2 separate regions of the Homo sapiens genome follow, and region 1 is linked to region 2. The links come from fine-mapping of genetic effects on gene expression. A gene starts in region 2. The other region holds a variant in brackets. All regions are shown on one strand. Distances are between the middles of the regions.

What was found.
Region 1: its variant is fine-mapped to the expression of WNT10A in whole blood (INTERVAL, PIP above 0.99).

Annotation. Positions count from the first base shown.
Region 1 is chr2:218,960,389-218,963,392 of GRCh38, reverse strand. It overlaps CDK5R2 (cyclin dependent kinase 5 regulatory subunit 2), which reads right to left. Exons shown (of 1, transcript NM_003936.5): 1 at 1,238-3,004. The coding sequence ends at 2,469. Among named protein-coding and RNA genes, the nearest start is that of CDK5R2, 2.2 kb to the right of the region's middle. RefSeq lists an enhancer at 1-79. The variant T/C (reference allele first, on the strand shown) is at 1,543.
Region 2 is chr2:218,879,651-218,882,150 of GRCh38, reverse strand. It overlaps WNT10A (Wnt family member 10A), which reads right to left and starts at 1,299. Exons shown (of 4, transcript NM_025216.3): 1 at 1,043-1,299. The coding sequence starts at 1,155. RefSeq lists silencers at 1,224-1,363, 1,384-1,593, 1,814-1,873.

The DNA of each region.
Region 1 (3,004 bases), 81 kb before region 2:
AGAGAGATGACGGCACCGCGCTGACTGCGCCAAATTCCAGCCAATGGGCGGCTGCTCCCGCCTTCCCTTCCGCCAGCTCTCCCCCTCCCTCCGGGAACTCAATTCACAAATCTGGACTGGGGATTTCCGGCTCCAGGCAGGTTACAAGGGCGCTGGGCTGAGGCCAGGGGAATCGAGTCCTGTCGTCCCGGGAGGGCAAGTGGGGACCGACATTTTTGGGTTCTGGAGCCAGACTTCTATAACTCGCCGCCAGAATAGATGACACCCTATTCCCAAATTATCCGGAAGACCTAGTTGAGGCCGAGTCTGCAACTCTTCCTGCCCTTACAAGCCCCGACCCCGCCCGAGCGCGCCATTCAGCACCACGGACAGCGAACCCGGGCCTCGTCTTGGCAGGTCCCCCCGGGTTCTTTCCGGATCTTCTCGGCCACGGCCAGACTAGGGTCGGAGCCGCGGGCACTCTGTTGAAGCCAGGCCTCTTTGGGCCAATGAAACAGTGAACAGGGCGCTTAGCCACGTGGCTAAGAAGGCAATGGGGACCGAGCAGGGATCTCAGGCTAAATAGCGCATTTTCCTTCCTGTTTCAATCCCAGAGAATGGCTTCCTTCTCCCCAACTGCCCTTGTTTGCCCCTTCTTGGGGATAAAGGGCAAGGGTCTGAGTCTCAAGCAGGGATGGACCCCCCAAGACTCCTGAGTGGGCGTGCGACCTGGGCATCGTCGAAGCAGCCCCATGGTGGTTGGGGGATGAGGAGAGAAGTATGGCAGACAGGCCCCACTTGGGAGTGGTGAACACAGACTTAGGCCCGACTGTACTCTTGACCGATATATGGTGGGGAGAGATGGGGAGGAAGGGAAAAATAGCAATAAGGACTAGCTAGTTCTGCCTCAATGGGTCTCATCACAGAAAGGGCACAACTCCGCTGTCCCCATGATTCGGTCTCTAAGTGGCCCGGGCATTAATGAGGAGCTAGGTCAGACAAGATGGAGGCGGAAGTGGGGGGATGGATTCAGCTTTATCACCAGGCCTCACCCTCAGCTGCCTCGCTTTACTCTTTACTCTCTGTAAAATGGAAGCCGATGGCGGGGGTGGGGATGGGGAGGAGGAGAAGTTCTCAGGTACTTGATCTCCCCTACTAGAGCCCCATCTCTTGCCTTTCTGCTCTGTCTGTGACAGTTCCATTACCACTCCCACTCCCTCCCTCCCGGGGCCCAAAGAAAGACCGGCGCAAAACCATCTGCAGGCGCTTCCAGCGCTTTATAGTTCTTTCCGGGACAGACGGACAGACAGACAGTGCGGCCCGCTCTGTCGGCCCGCATCATTGGCACCTTGGACACGGCCCCAGGCCCAACTCAGTCCCTGGTACCCTACCGGGAGGATTCCGGTCCCGCCCCAGCTCAGCACCTCGGACAGTTCCCGGCCCAGCCTACCCCCCTCCCCCCTCCCTCCGCAAACAACCAAATAAATTAAAAGGGGCAGTGGGGAGGAGCAACAAAAAAGCTAAGGATAAGGAAGCGGGATGTCCCTCCTCCAAGGTAAGAAG[T/C]TTTCTTTTCCTCCCACCTGTCCACTGAGGCGCCGCGGCCGGGGTGGTCTCCCAGGTTGATTTTGCCTCCAAACCTCAGCCTCCTGAAAGAAGCCGGCAGCCCCTTCCCCCACACCCCCCAGCTCCCAGCATGCAACACGTTGGAAAAGGTGGGGAGAGGCGGTGGGGGTGGGGCGAGGGACCATCCTGGTGGCTGTCTGGATACCTGGGACTGCAGTTTCTCCTGGCACCTCAGTCGATCCAAATTAAAAACTAATATTCCCTTTGATCAGGGGAGAGGGGTGTGGTGACTCAGTCAGGAATAAAAAAATGCAAGCTGACACAAGTGGAGGAAGAAGGCAGACAGGAGGGAAGATGGTGACACATGACAGGAGCAACAAGAAGGGCAGATGGGGACACAGGTGCAGGAGGAGAAACAGGGGTCTACGGGGTACAGTCAGGCAAGGGGTAAGATGGAGATGCAGACACACAAACCCAAGGAACGGAAAATGGAAAGGCAGGGAGAGGGAGGAAGAAAGAGAGGAACAGGAGAGAGAGGGAGAGAGAGAGAGAGGAATGCAGACAGGAGGAAAAATGAAGACACAAAAAGGAGGCAAGGAAATGGATAAAACCGAGGGGGAATGGGCTGAAGGGAAGGGGGAGACCCCGGCAGAAATGGAGAAATGGGGGCGCAGACAGACGGGAAGAGTGAGGTTGGAGTGCCTTTCCCGCGCTCATCTTCCGTCCCCACTCCACGCCCAGCAAATCCAAACACCGCGGCCTCTGGTGTCCCGGTCTCCACTTTCCCCTGAGGGGCATGGGCGTCTCCTCCTCCGCCCAGCCGGGGCGCTGAGCGGCGGTAACAGCGGCGGTGGCTTTGTGGTCCCGGGGGGTCCGAGTGTGTGTCAGGGGCTGGGGCGGGGGATGGGCGCGGCCCCTGGGTATCCCTAGCGGTCCAGGTTCATAGTCCAGTGCTTGGTTCCGGCCGCGCAGCTGTCCCTGGCGGCCGAGGAGGCGGCGGGCGCGCCCCCGCTCGGTGGGCCCCCGCCGCTGGCGGCGGCCTCGCCCTCGTTCTTGAGGTCTTGAAAGACCTGCGTGAAGAAGTGGGGGTCGGCGTTGAGCCGCAGCATCTGCGGGCTGAGCCGCTGGATGAGGCGCAGGCAGCGCTGCCAGAAGCGCTCCTTGTCGGGCTCCACGAGGAAGGGCTTGAGTGGGTAGGAGATCTCGTTGCCCATGTAGGAGTAGGCGAGGTAGAGGCAGGTGAGGAAGGCGGCCTGCAGCTCGGCGGCCGACGCCAGCTCGTCCCCACGCAGCGACTCGCGGCACAGCAGGTACACGAACACCAGGTTTGCAGGCGTAATGAAGGCCTGGTCTTGCCAGCCCTGCAGCAGCAGCGAGCGGTCCACACCGCGGAACCAGCCCACCAGCTCGCCCGGGCTCAGCTCCTTGAGGCGATAGCAGCGTCGGCACACGAAGTCGCCCA
Region 2 (2,500 bases):
ATGGGGTGGAGTGGGTACGTGTTTTGGGGGGACCAGGAGAGCCCCATCTAACAACACACACTCTGTCCCAACGGCCATAATCACTCCCTCTTCCAACCTCTGCTTCTGAAGGTTGGGCCCATCAGTACACTCCTACACATTCCTCTCTCCTTGACCTCCTCACAATCATCCTGCCCAGTGCAACTCACTCAGCTAGCTGCACACCCACACAGGTAAGCGTGCAAATGCACACACATCCACCATGCTTGTGGCCACAGTATTTCCTATGCACATCCCCAGGAATAGATGCCCATACACACAGGGTTCCCCACAAGCCCACTCCCACAGATATGTTTCAGTCACATTCACATAGACACACTTCTGCACACATTGTGGTGGACACACAAACCCAACCCCAGCACACTTACGCACATGCACACTTCATCAGACATAGTTACAGACACACACACAAAGACACTCCCATTTACACATGTGTTCATCTTAACATACATTGACCCATGAGCTCTCACATGCACACATGGGCACACATACAAACTACTGTTTACCAACACAGTTTGCTGGGATCCTGGGCTCGATTGAAAACACACACACACACACACACACACACACAGCTCTTGCAGCTGCAGTCTCTCACTGACCCCACCTGGGCTACCCCCTTCCAGCCTCCCAACCCCTGCCCCTACCTGGGGCTGAGCTGCAGGAAGGAGTGAGGCAGCTTGTGCTTACTCCTGAGGTGGGGGTGCATTCCCCCAACAGGGCAGGAACTCCAGACTGGCACTTGCTCCCCCCCCACACACACCTCCCCTCCTAGTTGCCATCATGCTCCTGGGCACTGCCTTGTCTCCCTGGACTGCCCATATCCTGTCACCAGTCCAACCCCCTCCTATGAGGGAGCTCACTGCCTTTGGTTGGGCACCAGCACTTTCCTATGACCCTGTCCCTCCCTTCTTCCAGGGTCCTCTACCCCAGCAAGAGCATCAGAGGCCCCTGCAGGCCGGGGTCCCAACTCTCTAGGAGGGCGGAGCATGAGGTGAGGGCTCACCTGGGCATGGCAGCAGCCAGCAGCAGTAGGAAGAACAGGAGCACCCAGAGCGCTGGCCGCGGCTGGGGCTGGGGTCGGAGCCGCAGCCAGGGGCGAGGGTGGGCGCTGCCCATGGCGCGCAGGCCCTGACGGGCTGGGAGTGGGGGGCTCACAGCCCAGTGGGACTGGAGAGCCAGGGGCGCCGGCGCATGATCGGCGGGGGGTCGGGGCGGCTGCGACACACAGCTCCGACTCGGGTCAGGGCTCCCGGAGCAGACGGCGCCCGCCTCCCCGCTCCATGGGGCAGCACCCCCGGGCACCGCCCTCGGGGGGGGCGGGGGGTGAAGAGCGGGCGAACCGGGCACCTCCTGGCACAGGGGTCCGGGGAATTTCCCGAGGCCCCCCCGCGACAACTCCCGGTGCCTCTCAAGGGTAAGGGGGGCCCGGAGGTGCAGCGGGCTGGGGACGGGAGGCTGGGGTGCCGGGGAACCCTCCAGCGCAGCGCCGGGAGCCTGCGCTTCCGAGGGCGTGCGAGGCTGGCTGGCGGGGGCGGCGCTGTCTGTGTCGGGCCCCACTGCCTGTAGAGTAAGTGACTGTCCCGGCTCGGGGAGCTCTGCCGCCTTCCCTTTCCTCCCCCCACCCCCCCGCCATTTAGTGTCTCAGGGCTCTACCCCACGTGACGTCACGCGGCGGGGCGTGGAGGCGTGTACGAGTCCCGAGGCCACTGCGTCCGCTGGGGACTGGGGGTGGGAGCGTCCCTGCTGAGGGCAACAGAGGGAAAGGTGTTGGGGTCTGTGCGCGCGTGCACAGGAAGATGCCTGTGTGTGGAGCGCGCTGGGTTGTGTGGGGGATATGTGTTACCGCGAGGTGTGTGTGCCTGGCAGAGACGCAGCTGCTGGGGAGCGCCCCCATCCCACCCCAACACACACACCTGCAGGGGCTGGAGGGGAGGGGCTGGCCTCTGTGTTTCGCCTCCTCCGCCAGAGGAGGGACTTCCCCCAGGCCTGCCTGGTGTGAGGCAGGTGTGGGCTCCTGCAGAGGAGTTTGGCAGCCTCTGGTTTCTTCTCCCCTTTGCTGTGTGACCTTAAACAGGTGCCTCCTGCTCCTGCTCACGGAGACCTCCTCTGCCCCTTTGCGGAATGCGGCTCATGGGGACCACCTTGTCTCCTCAGTGAGCCCGGGGAGGCAGCAGTGTCAGGCCCCCAGAAAATGCTTGCGTAGGAGCGCCCGGGGTGGCACGTCCTGGGAGGAGGCGTTAGAGAGACTTTTAACCCTAGAAGTGGCCGTTGAGATAGTTTATTTAGCTCCCCTTTATTTCACAAGAAAATATCGAGGCTCAAAGAGGTCACACAGCAAATTAGCGGAAGAGCGAGAACCGAACGCAGCTCTCCTGACTCCCAGCGCAGCAGCTGCCTCCCCAACACTGAGTGTTGCCTGCCTGTGCCCGCAGATACTCTCAGTCTTGTCCTGGCCCTCCCT